2 linked regions of the Homo sapiens genome follow. The protein of the gene in region 2 interacts with the protein of the main gene of each other region in a pairwise test. Each region holds a gene or a part of one and is shown on either strand. Other genes may lie near its edges. The genes, in order: FOXP2 and SP4.

What was found.
Region 1: the proteins of SP4 (region 2) and FOXP2 interact in a two-hybrid assay, tested with the Homo sapiens proteins (2 studies listed by BioGRID).

The regions. Positions count from the first base shown.
Region 1 is NC_000007.14:114,623,536-114,639,527, reverse strand, and holds part of FOXP2 (forkhead box protein P2), read right to left. Parts: intron 10,989-15,992; coding exon 10,851-10,988; intron 9,937-10,850; coding exon of another isoform or gene 9,886-9,936; intron 9,724-9,885; coding exon 9,523-9,723; intron 8,001-9,522; coding exon 7,823-8,000; intron 1-7,822. UniProt on the Homo sapiens protein: Transcriptional repressor that may play a role in the specification and differentiation of lung epithelium. May also play a role in developing neural, gastrointestinal and cardiovascular tissues.
Region 2 is NC_000007.14:21,503,865-21,519,856, forward strand, and holds the end of SP4 (transcription factor Sp4), read left to right. Parts: intron 1-7,157; coding exon 7,158-7,405; 3' UTR 7,406-10,958; downstream 10,959-15,992. UniProt on the Homo sapiens protein: Binds to GT and GC boxes promoters elements. Probable transcriptional activator.

The sequences.
Region 1 (15,992 bases), about 93 Mb from region 2:
AAATCATGTAACAGTTTCTGAAACCATTTAACCTATCTATCTATCTAGTCTACCTCTTGTTATCACCAGTCTCCTTCTAATACAACTGAAGTTTTATAAGAGTAGGAATTTCTTGTTTTACTGGTGTATCTCCACTGCCTTGAACAGTGCGTGGCATGTGCTCAATAAATATTTGTAGATTCCATTGATTATAATAGAGTCATACATTTCTTGAAGACATGTTGGTGCCCACATGGAAGTTTTGTGACTCTTAAAGGGCATACTCTATATGAATATTGCTACAATACAAGACCAGTGTCTAAAGAATTATATATGGCACTAGTTGCTTCTAACATAGATTGAGTGGCTAACAACATTTTATATCTCAGTTTAAGACTCTTAGATGGTTTTAGAGATTATACCAACTAACGATGTTACTGGTAACTCAGTTTTTGGATTTTATTAATAATTTAGTTATGTAAGTATCCACTTGCCTTCTAAAAGTAGATTTCTATGATACTATTCATTTGTACTGAAAATTAGTGATATAACCGTGCTATTGTAATGAAGTAACAAATGTCAGGCAGTTAGTAGGCCCTCAATAAATATTAGATGAATAAATGGCCTGTTCAAATAATCCAAATAATGTTTCTTAATTAAAAACAGGAAGACACAGTGTTAAATTATATAATAGATAAGAGGCAGAGAATAAAAGAAGTCAAAAAATTCCTTTTAGCGGCAGTGGATCCTCAAATGTCTGCATATTAGAATCACCTGGGCATATTTTAAAATCTCTAAAGGCCTTACCACAACCCACACCAATAAAACCACAATTTTAGAGGGGAAACACAGGCATTAGTAGTTTTTGAAGCTCCAAAGGTGATTCCAATGCACAGATAATTTTGGGGGGACATTTTTAAAAAGAAAACTATTACCTTGCTCTTGGGACAAAGCTTTCAACCTAAAAATTGCTCAGCTCTTTTATATGCTTACAAAACTACTTATGAAATGTGAAACAACTAGCCAATCGATTTTGTACAATTTTGAAAGTTTTATGAGCTTTGAAGGCTTGATGGTTTGCAATGATTAATCTAGGTTATTCTTGAGGCAGTAATATAACAAGTTCAGTATTTCCAAAACAGTGTTCTATGGAACAGTAGTCTTATAAATGCTGTTAATCTAAGAGATCTGTGGTCTCTGTCTTGGGGACTTATTATTCATGTAAAATAGTTCTGAGATGTGTAGTAACAAGGAAAACCTGAATCTCATTTTGAAGTCAGCGTTTTCCAATTCTATTTGAGCAAGAAAAACCCAAGAAACTCTTTATAATTACACTAGTTTGCGTAAGTTTTAAATACCAGGTGTAAACTTAGGAGTCACCAACTGATCCCATCCCATACCCCTCCCAGTCTTTCTATTTGAAAATCCCATGTAACCTTATCCGTTTTCTTAAACTTTCCATGTTCAAAACTAAGCTCCTGTTTATACAGCCCCCTCCCTCAACCCCAACTCAGTCCTCTTTAGAGTTTTCTTTGTCTCTGTTTTATTTAACTGATACTTACATAGTGCTTTTGATATGGCAGACATTCTTCTAAGTGCTTCACATATGATATCTAATCTAATACCCCAAACCATTATTATCATTATTATTGCTCTTATTATCCCTATATTAGAGATGGGGACACTAAGGCAAAGAAAAGGCCTTGCTCTAGAGCTACTCTGTCGCAGAGCTTCCTCTCATTTTCAGGTCATTACTCATTAACCCTTTTCTCAGGACTCCTTCTGAGGGTCACCCCATTTTCCTATTGTTACTTAGGCTTTTCCTATTCTTGCCTTTATTTCTCTCCTTAGCGCTCACCACTATATATTTTACTTAACTTATTTATCATCTGCCTTCTACACTAAAATGTATGTTTTATGATGGCAGGGATTTCTGTCTGTTTTCTTCACTGCTATATCCCCAGTGTCTATAAGAGTGCCTGCAGTCACAGAAAGCTCAAAGAATGTTACTTGAAAGAGTTTTAAAATTTGGCCAGAACACTCGTGTACTGGCAAACATACTCTGGGAATCTGTGGACTAGACTATTATGATTAATAGACAACTTTTATCTTAAGTGAAGATTATTCGGTTTCTCTTATTTCAAGGATATATATACTAGTAGTGCCAAAAAGTTTTGTAATTATGCAATTTTAAAATTCCGTGGCCACAAAAAATTGGGAATCCCTATTCTACTTTTGGTTGATAACTTGGGCTTGTGCTTATTCACTGCCAGTACCACAAATATTAAAAGGTTTTTACCACAGGAGCTGAGTAAATGAAAGGGTAATTCCTTAATCAAATTGTCTATCATACCACAGATAATACAACTTAATAATAATTCTTAAGACATGGTCTCGCTGGAGTGCAATGGCATGATCACAGATCACTATAGCCCTGACCTGGGCTGAAGTGATCTTCCCTCCTGAGCCTCCCAAGTAGCTGGGATGTGACCGACCACAGGCATACGTCATCATGCTCAGCTAATTATTTTATTTTTTGTAAAGATAGGGTCTCACTATGTTGCCCAGGCTAGTCTTGAACGCCTGGGCTGAAGTGATCCTCCAGCCTCAGCCTCCCAAATTGCTGGGATTATAGGTGTGATCCACTGTACTTGGCCTAATAATAATTCCTTAATCCCATATTCAGAGTTTGTGGAGTATCTACAAGATGACAAGCACTGTGCTAAGAATTAATTAAAATTAATTCATATCTAGATTATATGTCCTTAAGGCACACGAAGTTTAAAAATGTCTACGCTAGTTTCAACACAGCTTTGAAAATGCTGCTAAGATGATTTTTACTTATCACTAAAATAAGTAAAAAGCAATTTTTATTAGTAAAAAATCTCCTTGGCAGCTTTTTTACACTCAAAAAAAAAAAAAAAGATTTTTTCAATGTCATTTCTTTTTCTGTGTCCAGTAATTGATTTTTAAATGTTAAACAAATAATTGTATATATTATGATGCAAAGTATGTATACTGTTAATTTTTAACTAACTTATTTAGTGATACGCTACTTATTTTCTAAGGTTACTTATAATTTAAAGTAATAAAAGTGAGTTTTGGTAGAAACATTTGTATTATATATATTCTGTTAAGCCAAATTGATATTTAATATTTGAATTTGAATCACTGAGATATTACTATGTACTTTTCAGTTTTCATCTTAAATTTTGTATTTTAAGATGTGAAACTTAAAAACTGGTATACATACATGGCCAGAATAATTGAATCACAGAAAAGGGTATATATTACAAAAGTAAACTTCCCTACCAGCCTTGACCTCTGGATACCCATATCTCTTCTTCAGAAGAGAGTCCCAGTTTCTGGAGTATCCTTCAGAGATCTGGGTGTTCATTTATAATTTGACTAACTCAACATATTATTGATTTATATTTGACTAGAGGTCTACTATCACCTACAGATACAATGCCTATCTTTAAAATGCTTGTCTAATGAGAGGTGAATTAAATACATGCTTTGTCCAAATGCCAAATTTAGCAGAAGTAGGTATTCAGCTGAAACTGAGATCAAAGATAAATTATCTTCTCCAAAGAAGGAACTTCTGGGATATGTGAATACATCTGATATTAACAAAAATTAGTACTATCATTTTTTATAGGTTGCATTTCAAAAGCTTGATGGATATTCTATTACAAAACCAATGATGTTTCCTTTTTCTCATCATATTTTAATATGGCAAAGTTGACACACTGCTTTCGAGTCTTCCTCTCAAGATGTAAAGAATTGCCAAATAAAACTTTAAAAAAAGACTTAAGAGATAAATGGAATTAAATTCATTTTAATGTTATACATTCTAGTTCACAAAATAATTCTACAAGAATTATAGAGTTATGATACAGTTTAATCTCAATCTTTTTACATTTTTTCAAAAACTAACTCAACATACTCAATATTTTTCTATATATGTAAGTATTTACTAGTTTTTTAAACATAAAATTAACAGCATTCACAGGTAGCTTGGCAGAGTTTTATACCTGCAATAATAAATGTACATTAAAACTTCAATTCAGTGATGAAATTTTAGCACATAAAGCACCAAATAAGATTTTTTCCCCAAGTTACAAATGGAAAACTTTGATATTTGAAAGGGAATACTGACATGGTAATATTTTTGCATGACATGGATTGTTCATATTGGTAGTGTTGTTGCTACAATTACATACAATAGTAATCTATGCAATCACAAGATCATTGATTAAGCAGTAAATCCAGGATGCCAGAAGTAGGCATTTGGCTACTTAGACTTCCATAAGCATAGAATGAAGCCAAAGCCAAACAGCTAATTTTGGCTGAATATTGCGCCCAAAGACTATCTTCGGCACAATTCTAACTTAGCCTAAAAACATTATATTTTATTTCAAATATTTCATTTTTAATTATTATTCAACCACTCTTATTCTGAGAATCTCTAGTTCTATAATGTGTTAATTCAGAAGAATCCAGGCTAGAATCTAGCATTCTCTGTTTGGTCTCTCAAATTGGAAAGGAAAATCTTGTCTTCTAAATAACTTTTATAAATTAAAAAATATGTAAAAACTTGGAGTGACAGAAAATCATCACCACATGTATTCCTATCCATATAGTCATAGTAAATGTGTGAATATATTGTGGATTAGAGTACACAAACGTTTATCGGATGTCACAAACATATCAATGTTTAAAGTTAACTTCATCTTTCCTAACCAATAGACAATTATCCTGGTTCATTAAAATGTTTCACTAAATTTCATTACTAGATAATATATAAACTATGTTATTCATATATTACATAGATTTATAATCAGTATATTATTCAAGATGGAACTATAAATCCATCCTTTCTATTTGACATATGTATGTATATACCTATATACCTATACTTATGTATATATCTATCATCTGTCTGTATACAAACCAAACATATACTTAGGAGATGGAAGTTTACTTGCCTAACTAAAATCCAATATTATAGTAATATTAATGATGACCTTAAATGATTAATATTTAAAATAATTTACACTAAGATGATAAATATAAAACTTTAGAGAGGAATGTAGATAAATCTGCTATTCTACCAAAATTCTTATAATTTTATTATTTCTCATTGTTATATACATATATTTTAATATAATTTAAGAAGCTGTAACTCTAAAAGTAGCATGAAGAAGTTGTGTTAAATTATAGGGACAAATAAAATATGACATAGTTTTAGGTCGAGCACAGTGGCTAATGCCTGTAATCCTAGCACTTTGGGAGGCCGAGGCAGGCGGATCACTTGAGGTCAGGGGTTAGAGACCAGCCTGGTCAACATGGTGAAACCCTGTCTCTACTAATAATATGAAAATTAGCCAGGCGTGGTGGTGGGCACCTGTAATTGCAGCTACTCGGAAAGCTGAGGGAGGAGAATTGCTTGAACCCGGGAAGGCGGAGGTTGCAGTGAACTAAGTTAGCGTCACTGCACTCTAGTGTGGGTGACAGAGTGAGACTCCTCAAAAAAAAAAGAAAAGATACAGTTTTAAAGACACAATGAGAACATCATCCATCATTGCACATTAATCCTACTTGGTTTTTATATGGCTATTTTTCAAGGCTAATCAACCAATCAAAAACCTGGTAAAAAGTGAACTGGAAACTGATAATAAAAATATTCAAAATACTTTTACCTTAACCTCTAACTAAGGAAGAAATGATTCAGGGCTTACACTGTACAACAAATATTTCTTTACTTTTTCCCCACTCTAGTTTTGGGATTCCAGCATAGTACCGTAACGCTAGGTTCCTTTACTGTAGCTGGTGTATTCAACACACAATGAGCCTCCACAATGATATTTTTCACACTTAATCATCTAAATCGTAAAAAACAAGACAATGATGCCGGTTTGTGTGGCTTACATGGCAACAACACAAACTTTGATCGGTGAACCAACTACATTTGTGGCCCTACAATTATTCAGATGGATTTTTTTAACCTATATTAATGAAAACATAGTTGAGTGATTTCATCTTTTTTCCTTTTTAAAATATAAATTTTCTGCTCAAAGACAGATGTTTTCAGATTTACTTTCCTTTCCCTAAATGTTCGCCATTTTCTCATTTTATCTCTCATATATCTTATCAAGGATAAAAACAGAAGAAAAGAGAGAAACAAGGATTCTATGAAAATAAATTTTAATTTGAATTCAGGTAATTTCTATTTGAAAACTATTAGAATGATTATATCATTATAAATTTCATTGTTCAGAGAGATGTTTTTTGCTTGTTTTGAAAGAATGTGGTTTCACAATATGTTTTAAACAAGTTACACTGTGTTTCTATTAGCACATATTTTAAACTTTCTTAAAATGTTTACTTGAATTAATAAAATAAGATTGTGGTAGATCATGCTTTTCTGTTGAGGAAATTCTCATATAATTATATCCTAAATACAGATTTCATTTGAACTTGACTGAAAACAAAAACAATATTTTTTCTGTTTTAGTATAGTTTCTATTGAAGAAATCCATGTTTACACTGAAATAATTTTATAAACTCTTTTCTTTTTTACTTTTTCATGTCTTTAAATTGTATTTATTTTTCTAAAGAAGAATAATTGTGAATAGAACATTCATTGATATAATGACGCTATGATTTATTCCAATTTTCTTTAGAATATTTATTCCAATATTCTTTAGAATAACTCAGAAAAACAGGCTTATTGCCTTGTTTTTCTTTTGCTATTTAAACTTTATCTTTTTTGATTTCCTAGGAGTGCTTCAATCAGGTGAATTAGAAGATTTGAAGTCAAGTGAGAGAGGAAAACCAGGGGGAAAAAAGCCAAAGAGACATTAATTTGATAAATAAAAAGAGAGAACATTACCACGATACTCCTGATTTTCTTTAGTATGTCCTTTAGAATCAGCAAAATGTGCAGCCAATGCTACTACAATATGAACTCCTCTGTGACAAATATAATTAATTTGAATTAATGTACATTTGGATTAATGTTTGTCCCAACAAAATCCAAATGCAAGTTAGAATATCCCTTTATGAAGTGTAATGATATATAACTTACCTGAATTGAGAATTTTAGCACACAGTCATTTGTTTACCATTATTTGTCTTTTATAATTTAAAACTTTCCATTTCCCAAAAGTGAAGGGTTATGAATATGACACACAATTGTATTATCAGAGTACCTCCAAATTTTTCTTACAGAAAAATAAGAATACAGTTGACAGATTTTTTAAAACTATAGTTTACAATACATGCATAGGCAATGTTATTTGAGAGAAAAAAGAATGGATATGTCCTGTGACATAGGATGGGGTTCTACAAAGCTTAACTTGGAATGTGCTCTATAGAAATTCATGAAGCCTCTCTTTAACATGTGGTGATTTCAGTGTGAAGATTAGGAACTTTTATCTTTCTTTTATCAGTTGTCCACCAAACTCCTATCAGCTCACTTAGTTAAATGGACTGCTGTCAGCCTTCCCGGTAATCCAATTCCCTGCAGATCCTCCTGTATATTCAATAGTGCTTGAATTGTGTTGCCCTTATAAATCATTTTGTGCCCATAAGACTAATAAATACACATTTAATATCTAACAAAAACTTGAAAGTTTTACTTCACACTTGAAAGCAGTATATGGTAAAATTTCTGAGCCTCTAGAAAATAGGTCATGCCACCATGTTAACAATCACGTTTTAATAATAAATTTGAAAGTCATAAAAACAAAATTTCTCAAGGTATAAGGCAGAAAGGCCATGAAATGGTAGAAAGTACAAGATTTGAAATGAAGAGTGCACAACATTTTGTATGTACCTTGAGGCAGCGATTGGACAGGAAGTGCTGCCTGGCCAGGTGGAATGGAGATGAGTCCCTGACGCTGAAGGCTGAGCAGATGCTGCTGCTGCTGGAGTTGTTGCATCTGGAGAAGCTGCTGCTGGAAGACAAGCTGCTGGGCTGCCAATTGCTGTTGCTGCTGCTGCTGCTGCTGCTGCTGGTATCAGAAAACCCAAACCAGTAAACAGCAGAGAACATGGTCTGTACAAACAGCTCTCTTACAGGGAAATGCACACTCCTTTCATTGCCTGAGTGGGTTTTTTGGTCATCCCATAGTCAAAGTTCAGGGGCAGAATGTGAGTAAGTTCTAGATTTTCAGTTGCCTTTCTTTCAATTATTAAATCGTGTTAGAGAACCAAGGAACTTGCATCAAAAAAGTATGGAGCAAGGTCTAGAGATAGTATGTAATAAAGGTTCAGCTTTTTAAAATCTACTTATTGTAGATAATAATACATTTCTCTAGATTAAAAGAACACTACTTTACAGAAATAGTCAACTTCTACGACACACTTTTTTTTTTTTTCCAATTGAATAAGTTTGATCTGCAGAGGTCCATGAATGTGGTCTCTGGTGATCTATTAGTAAACTGGGATGTAGCCTTCATAGGATAGGCCTGTTAGCTCTCTCTCTCTTCTCCTCTCTTGTTGGAATATATTAAAGGCAGAATTACGTTCAAGGCAAAATTAAAAAAAAGTGCCCTTATTATAAGAAAAAGTATAACTTCCAATTTTGTGAGGCATTACAAGACAAACCAGAGGTCTTTGGACTCCAGAGGGTATGAGATGGCAGTCACACTTCAGAGAAAGACAAGCTGCTGTGGAAGACCTTTCCTTTTTAGTTTGGGGAAAAGAGAAACTTCTGATGCGCTCACTGGAAAACAGACTGCATAATGGAGCAAGTCATGTGGATTGCCCAAAGCCTCGGGAGAAATAAGGGAGCAATTTCTATTCTGTAGTTGATGGCTGTCTGAAATTCTATTCACAAATCCAAACAGAAACAAAGCCTCAGGAGGTCAAAACTGTTTCCTGTACGTTTGCATAATGGGCAGCTTGAAGACAACGGCTCTGATACCTGCTGATCAATTTAACTACTTCAACATGTTTTGTTTGTATTATGTTTATATTTGATGCAGTTTGCTGACAAGTGCAAGCTAGGCCTGAGAAGCCCGCTTGTCAGTTTGATTTATGAGCATATCAAACTGTAACTTTCTACTCGCCACTCTCAACCTACAGTAGCAGTTCATTAATCAGGGGCCTGTGACTTTGAAATCTGTGCTCAACCAGTTTCTCCCTTAGTCTCCCTATCCCCAACAATAGGCCAAATTTGCATGCATGTTCTCTGAGCTGCACCACTGAGAAAAATAAGGTTCCCTCACCAACTTAGATTCTCCATGAATACAAGATAATCAGTACTTTGTCCACCACACAGCTTGCTCTTTGTACTGTGATTCATTAGTGAACATTAGACGACAGCAGCATTAGATTGTAACTCTCAAGTCCCATGCTACAAAAAAGGAGAGCCTGAGAGCCTATCACTGTTACTAAGCTCAGTAAAAATATATAATACTGCAACTTTGACAGCAAGAGCCTTGTTATAGGAAGATCTAAGACTATTCTTGCCGCTCAAAGCCCCTTCTTAACTGCAAACTGTTATGTATCAATGAGATAACCGGATCCTACCTCTTTCGCTTGCTTTCCAGGATGCTGTTGCTGCTGCTGCTGCTGTTGCTGCTGCTGCTGCTGTTGTTGCTGCTGTTGTTGTTGTTGTTGCTGCTGCTGTTGTTGCTGCTGTTGTTGCTGCTGCTGCTGTTGCTGCTGCTGCTGCAAAAGCTGAAGATGTAACTGCTCTTGCTGTTTCTTGTAAAACTCTTGTAGTTGTTGCTGAATAAACCATTTTGACTTTAATAAATAAAGGCAAAAGTTTCACGTATTATAAATCTCCTAAACTCTTCTAGACTGGCATATGGCAGAGTATCCATTAAGATTCATCCCATAAAAACAACAAAAAATATACATTGGATTCAAAGAGACAGCTCTACATACATTTTTTTCCAAGGCAGCTCTGAAATTTTCCAATCCAGAATCCAAAAAATCCTAAACAAAAGGGTATAGAAAGTCTGTATTCTAAAGGGTCAGAGCCAAATTAATACTTTAAATTATTACATCTGAAGTCCTACTGACACATAAAAACTAGGCTATACTCTACCAGTTGTAAGAATAAAAATTTAGCTACATAAAATCAGGTTGCTCAATTCTTATTGGAAAAAACTTAATCCATCAGATGTTCAGAACAATGTCAGATTTACAAGTAATTGGTCTGTAGTCATCAGCACAGAAGTTAGCAAAGTAATTATATATAAAAAATTTCAGGTAAAGCACATTATTTTCTCTCTAATAAGTAAGTGTATAATATAAAGTCTATATACACTCAGGGTTCCGATATGGTATTTATTAGGAACACTATGTTTGTTATTTTAAAAAGATAAATTTCATAAATTTGTGGCTCAGCTGCCTAATTTCATTATAATAAATAGATTCTTCTCTTTCTAAACGATGAGTATACTATGAAAAGGAAAATCTGGGATGTTACTTTCTCCATTTTAACAAAGTGGTCTATTCAAATTTCATACTTTTGTGAACTAAAAGGAATGCTAAGGTGTTAGGAGTTTTAAAAGCAACTATTATCTGGTAAGTATTTTTGCATTTTTTTGGCAAGTCAACAAATTGAATGTACCTAAGCATTTGAATATTTAAATATTGGCTCATTCCATTTTCAAATTACACCTCTCTCTGCTCTTATTCTAGACTTTAATAATTTTTTTAAAAAAATAAGCAATCTAGATTTTCTTACGAGTTCTATAATTAAAATGTTACATTTATGTTCTAGCACGCTAATAGGTTGTCCTTTCAAATGGAGACTGAATTGTCAAATATGCCCACTGCACTTTCAAAATAAGTGCACACCTTCTAAGTCATGCTAGAACACCAAAGCAGGTAACCCACATTACCTGCTGCAGCATGACAGCCTGCTGTTGTTGGAGAAGGGCTTGTAGCTGCTGAGGAGACAGGACTTGTTGCTGAAGGATCTGCTGCATTTGCTGAGGGGTGATCACCTGGGGAGTCATCATGGCCACTGACACAGGCACCTTGCACAGAAAGAGAAAGAGAAAGAAAATTCGTGGTCATAACCAAATATCTGTTAATCAACTTCACAAATAGTATGTTATCTTTTATAAATTCTTTAGCATTGATGATCAATAATTTTTACGTCACATTTTACTATAACTTCTTTACAATAGTACTAAAGTATCACAAAACATAGACACTAGCTTTCCAGAGGCATCAGATTTCATCAAACTCTTTATGTTCCATAGCTCTTATTTAACATGCTTAGATATTTGAATTTCGGCTATAATATCTATAGTTAAAAATAAACAACCACATGGTGGTGTTCTCAATATTTCATAATTGATCATCTCATCAATGTCACTGTGCTATAAATACAAAGGTTTTTGAAATGTCTTAAGTGTAATTAAAATAAATATTAAAGATTAAAAAATTGGAAATATGCATATAAATGTTATCTAAACTAGTAAAAAGCATGTATACAGTATACTTACTTAAAAATATAATCATCATCTTCAAAATTTTATATACACATGATAAAGTACTAGAAAATAAATATAGTAATAAAATTTAGCATATGACAACATGTGATAATTCATATAGGAGATATATATATATATGTGTGTGTGTGTCTGTGTGTATATCCAGAAAAATAATGACATACATAGGTCTTCTGAAAGAAGAACTCATATAACTAGTATTCTAGCTTCTTCTTTAAACCTTTTCTTATTTCAAGCAACTGAGCTTATAATAGGAAGTACAAAAATTTAGCAATTACTCAAAGGTTATTCATTAAACTGAAAATAATAAAAGTAATTTACTTAAAACTTTTTTCCCACTACTTCCTTTTTCTTCAGGGTTCTGAGGATGAGAGGCAAAAAGAAGATAGGGAAGGAGAAAAAGATATAAAGGAGAAAGAAGGAAGGAAGTAAGGAAAACGTAGAAAAAGGACAAGCTAGTGGGAAAGCCCTAGAGAAAGACAGAACGGATGTGAAGAAATAGGAAGAGGATGGTAAGAGTGGTGATCAGAAAAACTGGTATAGAAACCTAAAGTATATGCTCAGATAGAAGGCAAGTAACACTGTTTGAGGCATTACTTGTACTAACCAGTATGCAATCAAACAACTTGTCAACTTTCCAAGTTTGCAACCTTTGAAATAGTAATCACTTTCCTAGAAAAAACAATTCACTTTTACTGTAAATAAAAGCAAGTATTTATATAAATACTGTTTTAGAACAAATTTATTGGGCAACATGTCTTTCAAAACCAAAAAAGATTAAAAGATACGGTTCACAACTTATTTTAATTGTTATTTTTAATGCAGTTCAAACTTTTCCAGTGTGGCACTTTATGTTATGGAGAAAGGAGAAATTAATAATGAAAAGAGGTTAGAAGAAGCAGAAGAAAAAAAAAAAAGAAATCCAGGGTGGATTAATTCTTCCTCCAAAAAGAAATAAAGAACTAAATAAATCAAAACCTTTCATATTTAATACTGAAAAATAGCAATGTCTTTTCTTTTCTCCATGTTAACATATTCAGATTAATTAGATCAAATTGAGTAACTTGAAACATTATGACAGAAATTCAGTGATTTTAAAAAATATTTCTGTATTTTTAAGGAATATACTGGCATACCTATAAATTACTGAATTTGAATTTATTATAATAAAAAGCATTCTGAAATGTATATTGTAAAATTAATTCACCAATGGGTTTTTCAAGTGTTTAGTTGTTTTATAAAATTGACTGTCAATTTACTTAACTCCTTGTTCTCTGATAAACAAATAGAATGGTTAGAACAAGTAGTGAGAAAAAAAATGTATCAATCTACAAAAATGTCTTTTCTTCGAACAATCATTTACCTCATACTATTTCCAAATAGGAATCAAACTGAAATGGACAGAGAAAGATAGACATATTAAACTAAAAAGGCTGTCAATCTAGATAGATAGATAGATGATATAGAGTTTATAGACATGTACATGGATATATATAGAGAGAGAGACAGAGAGAGAGAGAGAGAGAGATATGCCTTCTATAAAGTTAATCATAGATAAGAAGCTTGTCGCACTTTTCTTACATAACCGCTCCTTATTTTTTCAGTATATAGCGTTTTAATTATCCCTTAATTATTCCTATACCTACAAGTACAAATACTTTATGTATAATGATAAGTGAACTTTATGGGGAAAGTTCTATGAATGGAGGTATGCCGTAAACCACTACGAGTTTACAGTCAGATTTCAGCTTATACATATAATATGACTGTAGAGTTTGTTGCTATTGTGATCGATTTGATAAATGAGCAAATTTAAGCAAGTTTTCTATCTTCATATTCTTTAGGGTATACTAGTCCTTACACTACACAAGTTAGATGATTATTTTTACTCCTAAAATGGTTTGAGTGCCTTTCAATTAATAGTTATGACATAAATATAACCATGAAATCATTCTCTTCTTAAGATCATATGTTTTAAATGGTCACATGTATGTGATTTTTTAAAATTTTAATCAGATTCTGGCCTACCTTCTAGGAAACTGTCATCTAAAACTGACAATATACAGATATAAAAATAAATAGAAAGATGAGCCAATTAACACATACATGATTGAACACTCTACTTCTATGTGTACAAAAGACATAAATTAAAATTAATTATATAGGTAGAAAAACACAGGTACACTTCTGAGGGTTTTCTAACACTACAAATAAAGTAATACTATCATCTCTAAATCCACATATATAAGCTCACCCAAACTAAGGAGATTACTAAAAATCTAAGTTATTTAATAAACAAAAAACTAGTTTTTTCTACAACAAAGGTCAGTAATATTGCAGACCCGTCCACTTGCAATTTGAGAAATGCATAGCCTTCATTTTTAAGTGACTCATTTTAAGCGACACATTTCCTCTTCTCCTCCCTCATCGTTTCTTGTTACTGTCCCATTTCATTTACTTGCTACCACAAGCTACTCTAGGTATTCATTGATAAAAATGAATAAAGATTAATTGTATACATATAAAAATGTAGAGATTATACTACTTACCAATATTTAAATAGACGAAATCAGTATCAGCCTTTTAAAAATTTATGGACAATTTTTTTGAAATACATATACCTTAGCAAGTTCGGTGTTAGACTAACGGAACTATTTTTCGCTAGATATGTAATTTGATTCATGCAAATATTCTAATAAGGGATCACAATTTAGACGTGTGACATAGAAGAGGAGGGAGAACTTACTTCTGGTGAGAAGGCAAATAAAAGTCTGGTGGCTCTACCACCAAATGAAATCAGAAGAAATAGCTCGTTTTGAATGGGTATTTATCAGTTAAAATTTTCAAGTGTGAAGGAAGGAAATAGAGTCATCTTTGGTTGGGAGATTTTTTTCTCTCTTGGTATTTACTTTGCTGACAGATTTAAAATTCTCCTTAGTGATGCACCAAACAAGGGTCTCCATTTACCCTTATTTATTATCTCATTACATGAATTAAGCACAAACCCGACATGCTGCTCTGTGCACCAAGAAGTATTACTTAACTGAATATAAAGATAGGTTTATGCATTCTAAAATGAGAGAGGGAAAATTCTGAAACTGTCTTGCAAAGAGTCAGTGGTAAAAGTAAAAAAAAAAATTTAGGTATTATCCTAGAATAGGTAAGTGTATTACAATTAATATCACCTATTATTAATAAGTGATATTAAATATAATTATATTTAGTTATGACATAAATATAACCATCACATCATTGTCATCCTAAAATCATATGTAAATCATAAAAACATATATATTATAAATGTGTTTATATTAAAATTTAAAGTATATGTCATTGAGGAGGTCAAAAAAGTTATTACGAGACAATGCAAAGATCATATCTCTGTTCAAATGCATCTAAAGAGTTATTGTAAGAGTTATGAAAACAAACCAAAATTTTTGTTTTACATAAGCACAGTCTTTTCACAGTCCAGTTCAGTTGGAGCATTTCTGAATGTGCTGGGCTTGCATATTAAGTGCGTCCCTTAATTAAACATCCCAATTATGTGTGGGAGATTGGAAAGGTTCTTAGTATAGTGTCAGTCCAATTCTTTCTTCACTAAATGTGAATTGGAAATAGCAGTCACAATCTATAGATGACATTTACAGTATAAAACATTATTTTCTTGTTAACACGGTCTGCCAACTAGTGGTTCACAGATCTTTTTATTCTTTGTTTAAAATTTGAAGACAAAGGAAGTCCTGACTCTTTTGCCTTCTTGGTACTTGAAAAATGTAACTATGACAATTAACTACTTGTGTAATAAAAGCAAAATTTGTTCTTATGTTACAGTATCTGCTCTGATTTTGACTGTTAATAGAAAATATTTTATTGTACATTCTTGATACATTTCTTCTGTTTGCTTCTATCCTCTGAAATATCTTTATTTACAGTTTATTTTAACATAAGAAACTATTTATTGCATTGGAATGCCAGCTTTGGTAAAAATTCAAGCCTTGGTTACATGTGTAATGTCTATCATAATAATAGCCTTTCAAAAGCTTCCTGGTTTTATGGTATTAAAAAGAACTGACAATGAATTGAGTGGTATTTGTAAGCTTTTCATCAAGTACTGAACAGGAGTATTTAAAGAGATCTGGGATGGACAGTGCATATTGCTATTTAACGCAATCTTTTAGCAGCAGGGAAATAGTGTGACAGGAACAACAGAAATAATATAGCACAGTGCAATAACAGACACAGAGATTCCCTTTAATCATGATTCATCACTTAATTTCTACTATTACTTTAAGACACAAGTTTTAGTATTCATTTAGTTACCTTGATAAAGCAAAGTGTTTCCTGTTTTGGGAAGTAGTGTTTGTCCAACTTTGTCCTTCTCTTAGTTACAGACAAATATTTCAAGAGATTATATTCTTTTCTTTGTACTGCTGGTGAAAACCAGACTGCTCATATAGGCGTGTCATTGTAGAGATTATGGAGAAGTGATATATAATATGCTACACCATATGCTTAAAGGCCAAA
Region 2 (15,992 bases):
TATACACCCATAATTCCTAAGTATTGTATCACACAAAGCCTGGGGTCCCCATTGACTCCATTTGTGTAATGTAGATACTAGTTTTCTCATTAGGGGTTTACTTATTTCAGGAAGTACCCATTTGCCATCTTCAGTCTGAGTGACCCCTGTCCTGTCTAATTCTTCCTCCTCCTCTCTGGTAAACTGGGGCCTTAATACTAGCTTAGGGATGTTTGGGAGCAGGCTACATAGTCTAATTTCTTCGTCCAGGGAGGCTTGCTTAGCAGCTTCATCTGCAAGCCTGTTTCCTGTAGCTTCTATAGTGTTCCCTTTCTGATGACCATTTACATGAACTATGGCTACCTCTGCTGGAAGGAGGAGGCTTTCTAAAACCTGTTTGACCAGTTCCCCAGGTACCAATTATTTTCCCCTGCTATTTATTAGACCCTGCTCTGTCCAGATTTTTTCAAAAGTGTGTTCCAACCCATTAAGCATATTTAGAATCAGTATATATAGTGCCTTCTTTGGCTTTAAGGAGCTTTATGGCCGGGTTAAGACCATATAATTTACAGATTTGGGCTGACCAGCCATTAGGTAATCTACCTTTCTCACATAGGGAGTGTTTATCTCCATCAGTGACAGCATTGCCATCTCTCGTTCGTCACAACTCATCCACAAAGAGCCTTATCCCATCATGTAGTGGAGCTTCCCTAAGGTTTGGTCCTACTTTGGTTTGTTATTCTATGATATCTAAGCAGTTCTGGTCTGATGTCTTTGATCTCCTCTCCTTTCCATAGGAAACTGGCTGCATTTAGGCAAATATTTGTTGTTACAAGCAAATAATTTTTTTTCTTAATAATATGGCTTCATATTTTATGAAGAACGTGTTCAAACTATCTCCCGGCTTTTGGTTTAATATATTCCTGACCTGGTGTGGAGCGCTTACTATTAGGGCCCCAACAAAGGTTAGCTTTCTACTCTCCTACCAGCAGGGCTGTGGCAGCACTGCTTGCACGTATTTGGGCCACCCCTGAGAGACAGGATCGAGAAGCTTGGAGGCAAAAGCAACAGATTCCCTCTTCCCTCCCCAGGTTTGAGTGAGCACCCCAAGGGTGATCCACTGTTACCAACAGATGGAATGGTTTCTCTAAAGATGAGAGGACCAGGACCGGGGCTGTAATGAGGGCCCGCTTTAGCTCTTTTACCACCTGAATTTCCTTTGAGGACAATTGCAAGGGATTGGGTTCTTCTTTTAGTAACTTGATATATAGAGTCTTTGTCTTTTGATCATATGAGTCAATCCATAACCTATAGTAGCCAGTTAAATCTAAAAATTTTTGGAGTTCTCTTTTTGTCTTAGGCAAAGGCAGACCCACTATTCCCAGTATTCTCTCTGGGTTTATTCTTCACATCCCTTCACTAATCAGGTGTCCTAAATATTTAACTTCTTTTTCTGCAAACTGCAGTTTGTTCTTAGATACTCGCAATCCCCTTTCTCCTAGGAAATTAAGCTTGTGGTGGTTTCTGATACCTCGGTCCTCCTCTCCCCAGAAATTAAAAGATTATCTATGTATTGTAACAACTGGGTTCCCCTGGAAGGTTGAAATTCCTCCAGGACTTTTTCTAAGATTTGACCAAATACGTTTGGGGCTTCTGTGAAACCTTGTGGCAGCACAGTCCAGGGGTACTGTTGTTTTCTCCTAGTTATAGCATCTTCCCATTCAAAGGCAAAGAGGTTCCCTAATCCTAAAGTCTAGGGGACATGCCCAGAATGCATCATTTGGATCCACCACATTGAACCACTTACGTTCATAGGGTATCTTACTAAAGAGGGTGTAGTGTTTAGTCACCACAGGGTGGTAGGTCTGGACAGTTTGATTTATAGCCCTTAGATCTTGTAGCAATCTATACAACCCATCAGGCTCTTTGGGAGAATTGGAGTATTGTAACATGCAGGGTTTTAATTGTCCATCGTTAATCAATCCCTCTATTACCAGTTGGAGACCTTTTCTCCCTTCAGTGGAAATGGGATATTGTTCTCTGCAAACTACTTCTGGTTGTTTTAGGTTAATCTGTAAGGGTGTGATTTTTAACCCTCTGTTGCCTTCCCTAACCCTCACAAGGGGATTTAATTTTTCTTTCCTCCTCCTCTGTCAGGAGGCCCATCATTACTTTTATTTGTCCTTCCTCTATTCCTAATCCTAAACCCAATCTCACAATCAGGTCTCGACACAGGAGGTTAGTTCCTACTTCAGGAACAAGTGACGCCTCAATTTGTTTTGCTCCTGATGTAATTAAAATTTTCTTAAATATTGGAACCTGAAATCCCTCCCCTTTTACCCCTGATACTTTCAATTTTTCCTTAGAGAGTTCTGTAGCCCTTGGTTGGTGAATTAGGGAGGAGTGAGCTGCCCCAGTATCAACCAAAAATGTCACTTCTCCCTCAGGTCCCACCTTCAAATTTATTAAGGGTTCCTGGTGGGATCTACTCAGAAGGTGCTCCTGCCCCCGACTAGTCTTCATCAATAGTCATGAGGGGTATCACCTTTTCTTTTTTCCATTTAGGACATCCTCTCTTCAAATGCCCTGTCTTTCCACACTTGTAACATCCACTCATAGTCTTAGGACCTTTTCCCTGCATTTCCCTTCTTTCTTTGTGTTGAAATCTATAATTCCCTTGTCTCCTAAGTGGGGGATCTTGATGTAAGTCTTTTCTGACTACCTCTTCCACAGTGGAAACCATGATTTTTGCTTTTTGTTTCTGCTTCTCTTCCTTTCTCCTTACAAAGACCCTCTGAGTTTGCCTCAGTAAATCCTCAGTTGGTTTCTCTTTCCATCCATCAATCTTTTGTAATTTTTTGGTAATGTCAGGCCAGCTCTTAATTACAAAGTTAACCTTCAAAAGGCATTGCCCTACTGGGTCCTCTAGATCTAATCCGGAGCATTTTCTCATCTGATCTCTGAGCCTATATAGGAATGCAGAAGGAGTTTCCTCTTTTTCTTGTTGAATCGTGAATGTGTCCTATGTCCTACGAGTGGACTCCTTGATCCCTTTAATTATTAGTTCCTGGAGATCCTACATTTGGGCGCAGTCCCTGGGATCATTATTATCCCATTCAGGATTAACATTTGGAAATTTTTGTTTGGCTGGTGAGACTTCTTGCCTGGGAGGGTGTTGCCTCTCCCAGATGGTCATGTCCACTCTCCTGATCATTCCCCTTTCTCTTCCTATGAATAGGATATTCTTGATGGACATCATTTCAGCCCAGGTGTAAGAGCTGTATCCTAGGAATTGGTCCAGATGGTCTGCTAAACCGAGTGGATCTTCTAGGAGTGGTTTCATTTTTTTCCTGAAATTCCTAATTTCAATACTTGCAAGAGGAGCATTTACAAAGCCAGTCTCTCCCTGTCCCATGGGAACTCCCCTAAGAGGGAACATGCTAGGTGCCTGCTGTGTGGAAGGAATAGGGAAGTTCTCAATATCCCTCTTACAGTGTTCTTTTCTTAAATTTGGATAAGGATTTAGAGGAGCAGTTGGTTTGGCTCCGCCATGGTGTCCAGGTCTTTCCTCCTCTAACCCTCCTGCTGCCCCTTGATTTTCCTGTCCCCTATTTTGTGAGATGTATGGAGGGGCATGGATGATAGGGTCCCAGGGCTTTTCCCTGGGTGAGGGATTTTTACTAGGCTCTTTTTCTTCTTCTTTAAGTGGGAATATGGGGCTAATTCCTTGATCCAGCAGAGAGCATAACCTGTCTCTTGTGAGGTTGGGGTTTTATTATTCACATAGAGAATTAAAGCTTGGCACACCTAATTTTTATCTGAGCCAAACTTAGGCCATAGGACTATGCTGGTAAATGTCAGAGGGAGTCTCTTTGGCTCCCTCTTTCCCTTGTCCCCTAGGCCTAGAATTTCTGTTTCCCATTTTTGGTCAGTCTGTGTCTGAGCTTTTCCCTGTGTTCTCAGCACCCCCTACTGGAGGTTTCTTGCACACCCATGGAATCACTTCATCCATTCTCTGGCCATTCTTTGTCCATTCTCCTCACGGGAGAACGGAACCATGGATTGGGACTCTGCACTTGCTTCATATCTAGGGTACATCTCAGTCACACACACTCAACCTCTGAAAATGCCCAACCACCAAGACAGTACTTACAGTCCAATTTTCCTCCCTTGGCTTCTGCACGAGGTTGCCTGGTTGCTGCAGTGCCTGCTTTTCTCCCTGTGTCGCCTCTGCTGCCTCCTGAATAACAGTCTCAGGTTTGTCTGTGGCTTCTGTGGGGAGCCAGGATGCCCGGACAGAGTGGGCCACCCAAATCGGGTGGGACACCTCTGCCCTCTCGGCTGGAGTCCCACTCCATGCAGGCACAGAGATCCCAGACAGGCCCCCAGGTTTGTGAGAAACACAGATTCACCTGTCCAAACCCAAAGAATGGACTTGGAGACACAAACAATGGAAGCGAGACTTTTAATGGTGGTCTTGCAAGATGGAGTGTCTGGTAGGCAGGCACACCCGGGGCAGTTACAGCAGGTAATTTATTTCCTAGCATCCAAATCTCACTGCAACCTCCACCCCGCCTGGTTCAAGCGATTCTCCTGCCTCAGCCTCCCAAGTAGCTGGGATTACAGGCGTGCATCACCACGCCCAGCTACTTTTTTTGTATTTTTAGTAGAGACAGGGTTTCACCATGTTGGCCAGGCTGGTCTCAAACTCCTGACCTCAGGGTCCACCCACCTCAGCCTCCTAAAGTGCTGGGATTACAGGTGTGAGCCACCGCGCCCAGCCTAAATACAGTTTGTTTGTTTTTTTAAGTAGGCCACTGCCTCCACCTTTGTACAGAGAAATCCCAGGTTCCTCCTGTCAGAACCTAGCTAGACCCTGGAATAAGATACCAAGACCAGGCTTGCCAACTGTGGCTTGGCATAGAGTTTGTGTTTGACCTGGGGTCAGGGCCTTGTCTACACACTTTTTTTTTTTTTTTTTTTTTTTGAGACAAGGCCGTGCTCTGTCATCCAGGCTAGAGTGCAGTGGCTCACTGTAGCCTCAACATTTGCATTACATGTTGATTTATATAATTAATGGATGGTGTTGCTTATTATCGATTGATTGTGAATCTGGCCACGACAAATTTATTCTAATTGTTTATTTTCTCAGATTATTTATGTAAATAGTAATAACTGTAAATAATAATCTATTTCAATTTTTTTCTTCCAGTGATTGTACCTCAGTTCATTTTACTGTCTTATATGTTGGCTTCGTCAGAATGTTTCATATTATGTTGAAAATAGTAATGATATATATAATAGCATTCTTATCTTGTTCCTGATGTATAAAGTAATAGTTCAGAAGTTTCTCCATTAATTATATGTAGGGGTATAGCAGGTAAAAGAAATAAATTTTTATTCCTGGTTTGCCAAGAGCTCTTATCAAAATGTGTTAAATTTTATCACACTGTTTTTATGCTTCTGTTGACCTTTTTTTTCTCTCCTTTAACTTTATGGAATCTTAAGTCATACAAAGTATTTTATTTTTGTGTAGTCAGATTTGTCTATTCTCTCTTTTATAGTTTCTAAATAACCTGTTGTACTTTTTAAAGTACCTTCAAACTCTAGGTTATAGAAATATTTTCCTTTTTTTTTAATACTTGGTTTTAAATCTTTGTAGCATGTATCTTGGTGTGTGGTATGACATGGAGGTGCATCTTCTTTGTGTTACTTCAGATGGATGTTTAATACAATATTGTATTGAGTGCAGTGCTCCTGTAAGTTTTAATATTTGTTTGTAACAATAATAAGGAAGACTAATGGTTTTTTCAAAGTTTACTCAAAAGTAAAAGCACACACGTAAAGAAAAAGAGAATGTAAAGAAAAAGAGAGAATATCTGACGTGGACCAACTTGAGCCTATAGATTTTTTTTATTGGTAAGTCAAAAGCAGGGCCAAGAAAAGAAATTATCCAAATTGAATTTTCTCATTATATTAGTCTGTTTTCATGCTGCTGATAAAGACATACCTAGACTGGGCAATTTACAAAAGAAAGAGGTTTAATTGGACTTACAGTTCCACATGGCTGGGGAGGCCTCACAATCATGGTGGAGGGCAAAGAGGAGCAAATCACATCTCGTGTGGATGGTGGCAGGCAAAGAGAGAATAAGGAAGACACAAAAGCAGAAATCCCTGATAAAACTATCGTATCTTGTGAGGCTTATTCTCAAGAACAGTATGGGGAACCCACCCCCATTATTCAGTTATCTCCCACTGGGTCCCTCCCACAACATGTGGGAATTATGGGAGCACAATTCAAGATGAGATTTGGATGAGGACACAGAGCCAAACCCTATCACTTATTACCCAAGTTTTATCAGACTGGGAAAACAACATTTCAGTCCCTTAAGTAACAATTTTAGAGGGAAGATCTACGGCTAACAGTTATTCATTGTGCACATCAGGATAAACCAGTTAACCAAATTTTGATATGCCTCATTTATTATACACAAAAACAAAAAGGCCTTTTTGTTTTTAGTTAACATTAAACTAGCTTTTATTCCAAAACAAAGAAGTCGGTCCAGTAAAACTATCTTATATTTTGAAGAAAACATATTTAAGAATTGCTTTGGACAACAGAAACTGTTATCTTATGAAACCTAAAAACTTTATTAAATTCTGAATGTAGCATGTGCCTGCCTCCCATTTTTGCCTTGTAAAGAACTCAGTATGCTATTAAATTATTAACTTAGTTTATTTGAAATAGTTCCAAGATATTTCATGCCTCCAAGATTAAAACTAAAACCCAGGTTAGCAGTTTTGAAGAAGAGTGGACATGAGCCTTGAACATTATATATATTTGTTACATCTGATAGAGATATTTTAAATTGTCTGCTAAAAACCCTCTTGCTTTGTAGATGGGAAAACTGAGAGTTCCAGTGGCTATTTACTTGCTCCAGCTTTTATTTCCAGTTCATAGCAGAAGCAGGACTTAAACTTCAGGTCTTTTCGTCTCAATCACATGGTCTTTCTCTTTGCATTGTGTATTTGATAACGTTTTTAAATAAAACAAAGCATTTTGCAACTAGTGAAACTGTACAAAAAGTCATATAATGTGACCAGAAGGGAGATTATTAAAAATTATAATTTCACTTAAGCAAAATGTGTATAACGCCATTTACTGTTTTTCTATGTAGGTGAAAAGAGATTTGAATGCCCGGAATGTTCTAAAAGGTTTATGCGGAGTGATCATCTCTCCAAACATGTCAAAACGCACCAGAATAAAAAAGGTGGTGGGACAGCTCTTGCCATTGTTACCTCGGGAGAACTGGACTCATCTGTTACAGAGGTGCTTGGCTCCCCAAGAATTGTCACAGTTGCAGCCATTTCTCAAGATTCGAATCCAGCAACTCCCAATGTTTCAACCAACATGGAAGAATTCTGAAAAGTTATTTATAACAGAGACCTCTAGTGCTGCACTTGTTTACACACCTTTGAAAATCTGGAAATGGGCTGGTCAAGTGGATTACAGAGTAGGAAATTATGTTTTCATTCTTGGCTTCTTTAAGTATTCCAGGGTTTGGGGTCAACACGTGAAGTGTTGAATTTTAAAAAATACAAAAAGCAGACTGATGTACTGGAAACAGAAAAGTATTTCCTCCATACTATAAGTTGTAGTTGTTTGGAAATATATCACATAACCTTTATACAGAATCTTCCCATCTCTTAATATCATGTGTTAACATGTTTAAAAAGACCTTAGTAGTTTGCAGGCTGGACCTTAATTGGACTTATTTTCTTTGAAAGTACTTTGTTATAAATTCAGTCAGTAATAATTTACGTGTATTCTTTTTCTCTATAGCACAGAAAACAGATAGTTAACTGATGATAGGGATAATACTGTATTTCCTTAGCTTGATTTTTGGAAAATCAACCGAAAATAGTTTGGCCGTCTTTTCTAAATGTTAGAAATTCTTCAACAGTTGAATTAGGTAAGTTCCAAAACAGTAATCTGAGATGCATCTCAGATCTTTATTACCACTACATTATAGTAGTGTGTATGCAGACAATCAGTGAAGTCCAATTACTTTCTCCATTTGGAGACACAAGAGGAACATAGAGTTAAATCTTAGGTTAAATTTTAGGTTGACACCTTAGGAAAATGCTGGGAAAAAAATGGTTAAAACAAAACTCATCATAGCTTCAGAAAAATAAAATGAGGCATCTTAACATGCAATGTTCTAAAGTTAGGATTGATTATATTCCTAACCCTAGGTTGAACCACAAAATTTCATTTAAAATGTTTATATTTGGAAATATTTGCATAGAGTGTAAATTGTTCTGTAGTTTCATATTTTGTAAATATGAGTTATGTTGACAATGTGCAGAATTCTTTATGCTTTGATGTGGTAGCCAAAGAAAGAATTACACTTTTTTCCAAGGCCAGCAGAAAATTCTCTTTTAACTACATTGTAATTCTTGTTTTCCTCTACTAAAAATTGGCCAGTCCCATTTTATTTCTAGTGCTATGTAAGAAGGTAATTAGGAATTATAACACAGTAATGTTTTTATGTTACATCAATAACTGAATTTTCCCTAAAAATTAGCCTAATATATAATAGATATATTATGAAGCAAAACTTTTATTTTTGAAAAGGCAGAATAATTTTCAGTGAAGTAAGTGACTAAAGAAAAAAACTATATTATTGTTTATGCAAGGGTCTTACAGGAAAGGGTCTTTTTTTTTTTTTTTTTGAGATGGAGTCTCGCTCTCTTGCCCAGGCTGGAGTGCAATGGCACGATCTCAGCTTACTGCAACCGCCGCCTCCCAGGTTCAAGCGATTCTCCTGTCTTAGCCTCCTGAGTAGCTGGGATTAACAGGCGCCTGCCACCATGCCTGGCTAATTTTTGTATTTTTAGTAGAGACAGGGTTTCGCCATGTTGGCCAGGCTGGTTTCAAACTCCTGACCTCAGGTGATCTGCCCACCTCGGCCTCCCAGAGTGCTGGGATTACAGGCATGAGCCACCATGCCCGGCTAGGAAAGGGTCTTACTAGGAAAGATGGCCAAAAGTTTCATATGAAAAAAATTGGATTATAAACCAGTAACTTAAATATTAATAAGGATATTTTATGTTTTAAAAAAGTATTTACACAGAATCATAATCAGTGAAATTGACCATTTGAAAACTAAAAGTTTTTACCTACCTGCTCAATTTATTAACATCATTGCTTTGGGGACTGTTTGAATATAGGTACGTGTTTTCTTGTGCATTCTCTATAATTTCAGGAAAAGTACTAATGCGAATTCTCTTCCAAAATTGTGATGTTTCTTGTATTTTTGATGAAGGAGAAATACTGTAATGATCACTGTTTACACTATGTACACTTTAGGCCAGCCCTTTGTAGCGTTATATAAAACTGAAGGTCTTTTGTGCTTTCAGTTTGTATAAAAAAGCTTTGAGATTAAAGGAAAAAAAAAATTTTTACACTGTGGTTATAAATTTCAAGTTTCTTAAAGCTTTTGTAGACTTGTAACAGAGTCTTTAAATTTAAGTTGGATTTTGTAAATTGTTTTGTATATTTTATTTAATGTACTCTTAACAACTGATGTATCTGGCTTTAAAACATCAGAATTGGTTTGTTGTTTTGTTTGGTACAGAGGAGCATTTGGTAGTGTTCATTTTAATTTTATTATATAGGAGCTGAAACATCAAATATATATTTTATCTATCATTATGCTACACAATCAGTGCTATAAATTTTTTTATGCAAAGAAACTTTCTTAATGTTTTAATCATGTTTCCTCAGAGTGACACTTTTTGTTGTTGTTAATACCAAGTATGAACACTCTGCATCATTATTCCATGAACCAGTTCTAATGCAAACCTATGTATGTCCATTAGAAATGGAAGTTATTTTTTAATCAACAATGAGGCCTATTATAAATTTATCAGATGAATCTAGATAGCTTTATAGCATATAAAATATGTTAATTTGTGTTAGCAGGTGCACATTTCACCACTGAAATTAGAAATATTTTGACAGTCTGTTCTGCATACCATTCTGAGTCTACTTTTCTGTCTTTAGAAGAATCGTAAATTTCAGTGTCCTTTATTTGACTCAGTGGGATATAGCTGTTATAAGTAATAGGGCACAGATGTGCAGTAGAGTCTTGTTTAATGGCATTTCACTGTTCATTCCCTTTACCACCGTTATAAAACTTTTCTTTATTGTAATTATCAGTGCAAAGCTATGTATTTATCATGGTAAAACTCCAGTGTTAGAATAGTTTTTTCTTACAGTATACTTTCTTTGGTTAGGTTTGTGTATGTGTTGCTGATTACATTAGAACTTGATGTTAAGTCATTTATCACACTCTCATGAGAGCAGTAATAAAAGTGTGTAATCTAGGAGAAAAAGTTAATTTGTCAAACTTAGATAAGCATGATGTTTAGGTCCTATTTTTCAATTTTATAACTGTTTTATTGCAACAATATTTGTATTTAAGTCTCCATTTTAATGCCTTGTGGTGTTTTTTTATGCATGTCACTAAGTTGTCATCCCACATAAATTGATGTGCAGCATAGGGTATTAAATCTACATAATGATTTTAAAACAGAAATAGTTGATGGTAAAATGTAAATGTTTTGCAAAAATTCCTTATAAAAAGTTTTGTAGTAACATTTCACTTGTAAATTTTTTTTGTAAAAAAAAAAAAATGAAAAAAAAAGATGAATCCAGAAAAAAACCTGTTTCCCATATTCTAGAATTTAGACAATTATTCTGCCAGCAAAGCCTCTGGGGCTGTAATTGACATTTTTACAGTGCTGATTTGTATAAAATTTGTTTTTTGTGGATTTGGAAATAAAATCATGTACAAGTTGTTGCCTGCAATAACAATTGCAAGTAACCTATTAAAAATTCCCTTGAGTTTAACATGTTTCATTTAATTATGTATACTATAAAGCAGCAATAAATTATTTGAACTATCAACCTACTTATCATGAACACTGGAGAGTTAAATGCTTCTCACTGGAGAACACATTGGCCACCGTTCGTAATTCCTCGTATTGAGATCTGGTCACCATTTCTCTGAACATACCGCCAAAGAACTCCAATTCAAATTGCATGTTAATTTGTAGCCATTGCTCTAGACATTTATGGAAATTAAAATTTGATTTAGAGACACTTTTTACTTAAATATTTTAAGCAATCAATGTTAGGAAATTATAGGAAGACCTGAAAACGAAAAACATAATTAAAATATTATTTAAGCTCACAGAATCACTGAGAAGCAATATAGGCCACATAGATGCCACAAAGACTACAAGCAGAAACTGTCTTCCTCCTGGGAGAGCCCTGCAAATCTCATGAAGACCTTTAGTAACATAATGAATACATTATTGTAACAACTTCAGCTAACACATTTCCAGACTCACACCAGATATAGACATAGCAAAGCGAGGGTTTGGCCCAGGGTGGCGGAGGTAGGATGTTAGGCAGCAAGAGAAGTACGCTGGCCCACTGACAGAAGACTCCAAAGACTCTAGGTTTTAGGTAGTAAGCAGGGGCTACAAGGTGTTTGGACAGAGAACCTTGTACAGCAAGGTCCTAAAGGCATAGTTGTGTTACAACTTTGTAAAATAATGTGTTCATAACACTGACTGAATCAAAGAATTTATGCTACTCTGTCAAATAAGACAGTAAGGAATTGTCAAAGGATGTTTTCTATCCAAAGTAAAGATACACTTCAATTACCTGAAAAATTCGCATTAGAAAGCATCAGGATGATATCGTATAAAAGGGGATAATGCAGGCCAGGCGAGGTGGCTCACGCCTGTAACCCCGGAGCTTTGGGAGGCTGAGGTGGGTGGATCACGAGGTCAGGAGTTCAAGACCAGCCTGGCCAACATGGTGAAACCCCATCTCTACTAAAAATACAAAAATTAGCCGGGCGTGGTGGCGTGCGCCTGTAGTCCCAGCTACTCGGGAGGCTGAGGCAGAATTGCTTGAACCCAGGAGGTGGAGTTTGCAGTGAGCTGAGATCACGCCACTGCACTCCAGCCTCGGCAACAGAGCGAGTCTCTTGTCTCAAAAAAAAGGATAATGCAATTAGAAAATGTCATTGTGTTTTTCAATTTTTAATATAGTTTGCTTCTTGTACTTCTAGAAATTTCAGCCACATGAAAAAGACAATAATAAAGAAAAAGGGATAAATCACCTTGAAAATTGACAAAAGCTGTTGGTGTAGTAAGTTAGGAAAGCTGAAGCAGTGCTAAAAGCAATACTAATAGGGTGTGGTTTACAATGCCATTGGTAATGACAACTTGAAAATAGAAAAATATACAGTATTGTTTATTTTTTAATTAAAAGTTCAGATGCTTAATTTCAGGGGTGCAGAGACTTCAAGTGTCACAGCAAACTTGAAATACTTTATTCCTTTGTGAAACTGAATAATATATTGCTATATTTACTGCCTGAACAGTAATGTCTGCTTAATATACACACAACCAACTTGTAATTCGGTAGCAGGACTTTTAAGGCATGTATTTTCCATTCTTTTAAGATTGGCTGATTAGCATAAACCTTGGGCTCTGTTCCTCTTAGTAACAGGTGGCAATGAAATAATTTATTTTTGGATACCTGAGAGTAATGTCAAGCAGAAATAGTGGAAGGAAGGAAGAGAGAAAGGAAAGGAAAAGGAGCATAAAGGCCTATTTATAATGCAGTGGGTTGATCTCCCTGGTTAATAGCTAAGCACCGTGCCAAAAGAGATCAACGGAGAGTCTGAGGATTTCAGGCTGGATTCCTGGTTCAGCCACTTAGTAGGCACACAACCGTGGGCAAGTTATTGAACTTTTAAGCACTTATTTTTTTCTACTTCATAGAATAAAAGAGCAATGCTTATTAATGTTAAGCATTATGAATAATACATAGGTCTGTTAAGATCAAACAAGAAAACTATATTGAGTAACACATAGTTGTGTTTAATACGTTATTATTGTTAATTATAAGTTAACCCAAAAGGCAGACGGGTGTCTTAGTCCATTCGGGCTGCTATAACAAGATAAACTAGACTAGGTAGCTTATAAACAACAGAAATTTATTTCTCACTTCGGAGCTAGGAAGTCCAAGGTCAAGATTCTGGCAGATTCAGTGTTCATTTACTGGTTCATAGATGGTGACTTCTAGCTGTGTCTTCACATGGTGAAAGGGACAAGACAACTTTCTGGGGCCTCTTTTGTAATGACGCTAATCCCATTCATGAGAGCTCTACTGTCATGATCTAATCATTTTTCAAAGGTTCCACCTCTTAATATCACTGGTAATATTATTGGTAATTGGGTTTCAACATGAATTTTTGGGGGGCACAACTGCTCAGACCATAGCAGGGGGCATGGAATAGTTCCCACCTGGACCAATGCTGAAATGTCTTGAAAATGGGCAACAATACATCAAAAAGTTAATTCTCAAATCCCATTTTAAAAATGAAATTTCAGTGGGAATTTCCAAATTCAAACATATTTTTCTCAAACTGTGAGCTACTTTGCCATACTCTACCTCAAAATTTTATGACAGTCTTTTTCCAATTCTAAGAAAAATAAAAGGTTTAAATCTTAGTTACTTTCTTCCCCCCCCCCCCTTGAGCCAAGGTCTCACTCTGTCACCCAGGCACACACCACCATGCCCAGCTGGTCCTGGGCTCAAGCGATCCGCCTGCCTCCACCTCCCAAAGTGCTGGAATTACGAGCATGAGCCACTGCGCCTGGCCTAATTCCTAATTTTTAAATGTTAATTACAATTACTGTTTGCCTACCTCAAAGTGATAACAGACAAGCACACCGGTGAACAAGAAGCAAACCAATTACTGAAAAACAGAAACAGCTGCTCATGTGTTGTTCACTAACTTTTGTGGGTTTATGTGTGGATGATTTTCTATATTTAAAAGCATTCTCTATATTTAGAAATATATGTGTTAAATAAACCCAGGCATACAGGGCAAATGTACCCCTCTTTTCAGCTACCTACCAAATTGCAGCCAAAAAAAGAAAACATGGAATGTGGAGTTCAAAAGTTTCTTAGACAACTTCCTCTCAGACTTGGTTCAGAAAAGGATAATAGGATGCTCTACTTTTACTTTGCTTTTTAGATTCTTTGTGAAATAAGATAGGATATAGAATAAATGTCTAAACTTATAATGCCCTGCAAGGCTGAGGCATCTCTGCTGGCTGTAGCTTCAGTTGTCCAGTTACAGCCTTCTTGCCCATTTAACTCTTACCTTTGCTTCAGATCCTGTTCTTAACTCTGAGTTGCTCTGCTCATTCCCAAGCTTACCTTTGTTGGAGATGCTTTTTCCAATTAATACATTTATGGAGCACTTACTGTGTGTCAGATTCAGGCACAAGGGATGCTGTTTTTCTTTTCTATGCTAACTCTGCCTTCTTGCATCCCAACCTCAGCTGGATTTCTGGAGCTCCTTGAGATCCATTTACCCTATGCCTAGGAATGGGCAGGCCAGCAGTTGCAGAGATACTGGAGTCTATTGAGACCATATCTACGGGGAGGAGCCGAGGCTCAGGTAATCTGAAGCAAGTTAACAGGTTTCAAGTCAGGGTCAGAGACTTAAGAAATCAGATGTGGGTGTTAAGATCAGACAAAAGCAAATTATAGGGAACAGGAGAAAATTAAACGAGCAGTTGTCATAAACGCCAGTTTGTCTTTGAATCATGTCTTTCTAGGTGGTTGGCTTGGTTCAAATTTTGTTATTTATTATCCTGCTATGAATTGTGGTTTCATAAATATTTTATTTATAGTAGTAGTATTTTTTAGATGTTTAGATGTGGAAACATAATAACGTTATATTTTCTGCTGGTAAAATTGTTCCTTGCTTGTATAATGTTATGCTGGAATTAAATACATCAGTAAATCATGGTGCTGTGTGAAGGGCATTATGGCTTCCAAGTATTTGGTCACCTTAACAAGTCTGAAAATCACTGTTGAGGAAAATAATCTAATGGCAAAGAATAAGCTAACTGAAAAAAGATTCCAACCCAATTCAGTAATACTGTAAACAGTTACCACTTTAATGTATTTTATGTTTTTGCAGCCCTTTACATTAGCTTATTCTTTGTCAGGTTCATATATGTACACATGAAATGTATGTGTGTACATGTTAGGTGGAGCATCATATATGTTTATAGTTTATAAGGCAGAATTAAATTTATGTTACTATGGTTTGGCATTATAGTTGCTTATTCTCTGTCCTTAATTATGTGGACAGACATAAAATTGTTAGAAAATTAAGCCCTATTCTGATTATCACTTACAACCTTGTTTAAATTTTCTTTTCTTTTCTTTTTTCTTTTTTTTTTTTTTTTTTTTTGAGATGGAGTCTCACTCTGTTGCCCAGGCTGGAGTGCAGTGGCATGATCTCGGCTCACGGCAACCTCCGCCTCCCGAGTTCAAGTGATTCTTCTGCCTTAGCCTCCCATGTAGCCGGGACTACAGGCGCCTGGATAATTTTTGTATTTTTAGTAAAGACAGGGTTTTACCATATTGGCCAGGCTGGTCTAGAACTCCTGACCTCCCACGTAGCTGGGACTACAGGCACCCTGATAATTTTTGTATTTTTAGTAGAGACAGGGTTTTACCATATTGGCCAGGCTGGTCTAGAACTCCTGACCTCATGATCTGCCCGCCTCGGCCTCCCAAAGTGCTGGGATTACAGGTGTGAGCCACCGTGCTCAGCCTGTATTTTCGTTTCTATGGAGCAAGTTATGACTAGAACAGAGTTTTGGGTTCTGTAGAAAAAAACTCATTTCTCCTTGTTTTGCTCTGCTTTTCACGATATTGTGGATGCCAATTTGTACTAAAAGTCTGTGTAAATATGTCCACCAATTTGATAAGTAGCTGGAAGTACTTTTATTCTTGTGTTCAATTGTAACACAGCACAGCATTCATCAGTCAGAAGGGATGCTGGACATAGTAATGGAAGAAGGTCCTAGAGCAATCTCCCTCCCTCCCCTTAGTT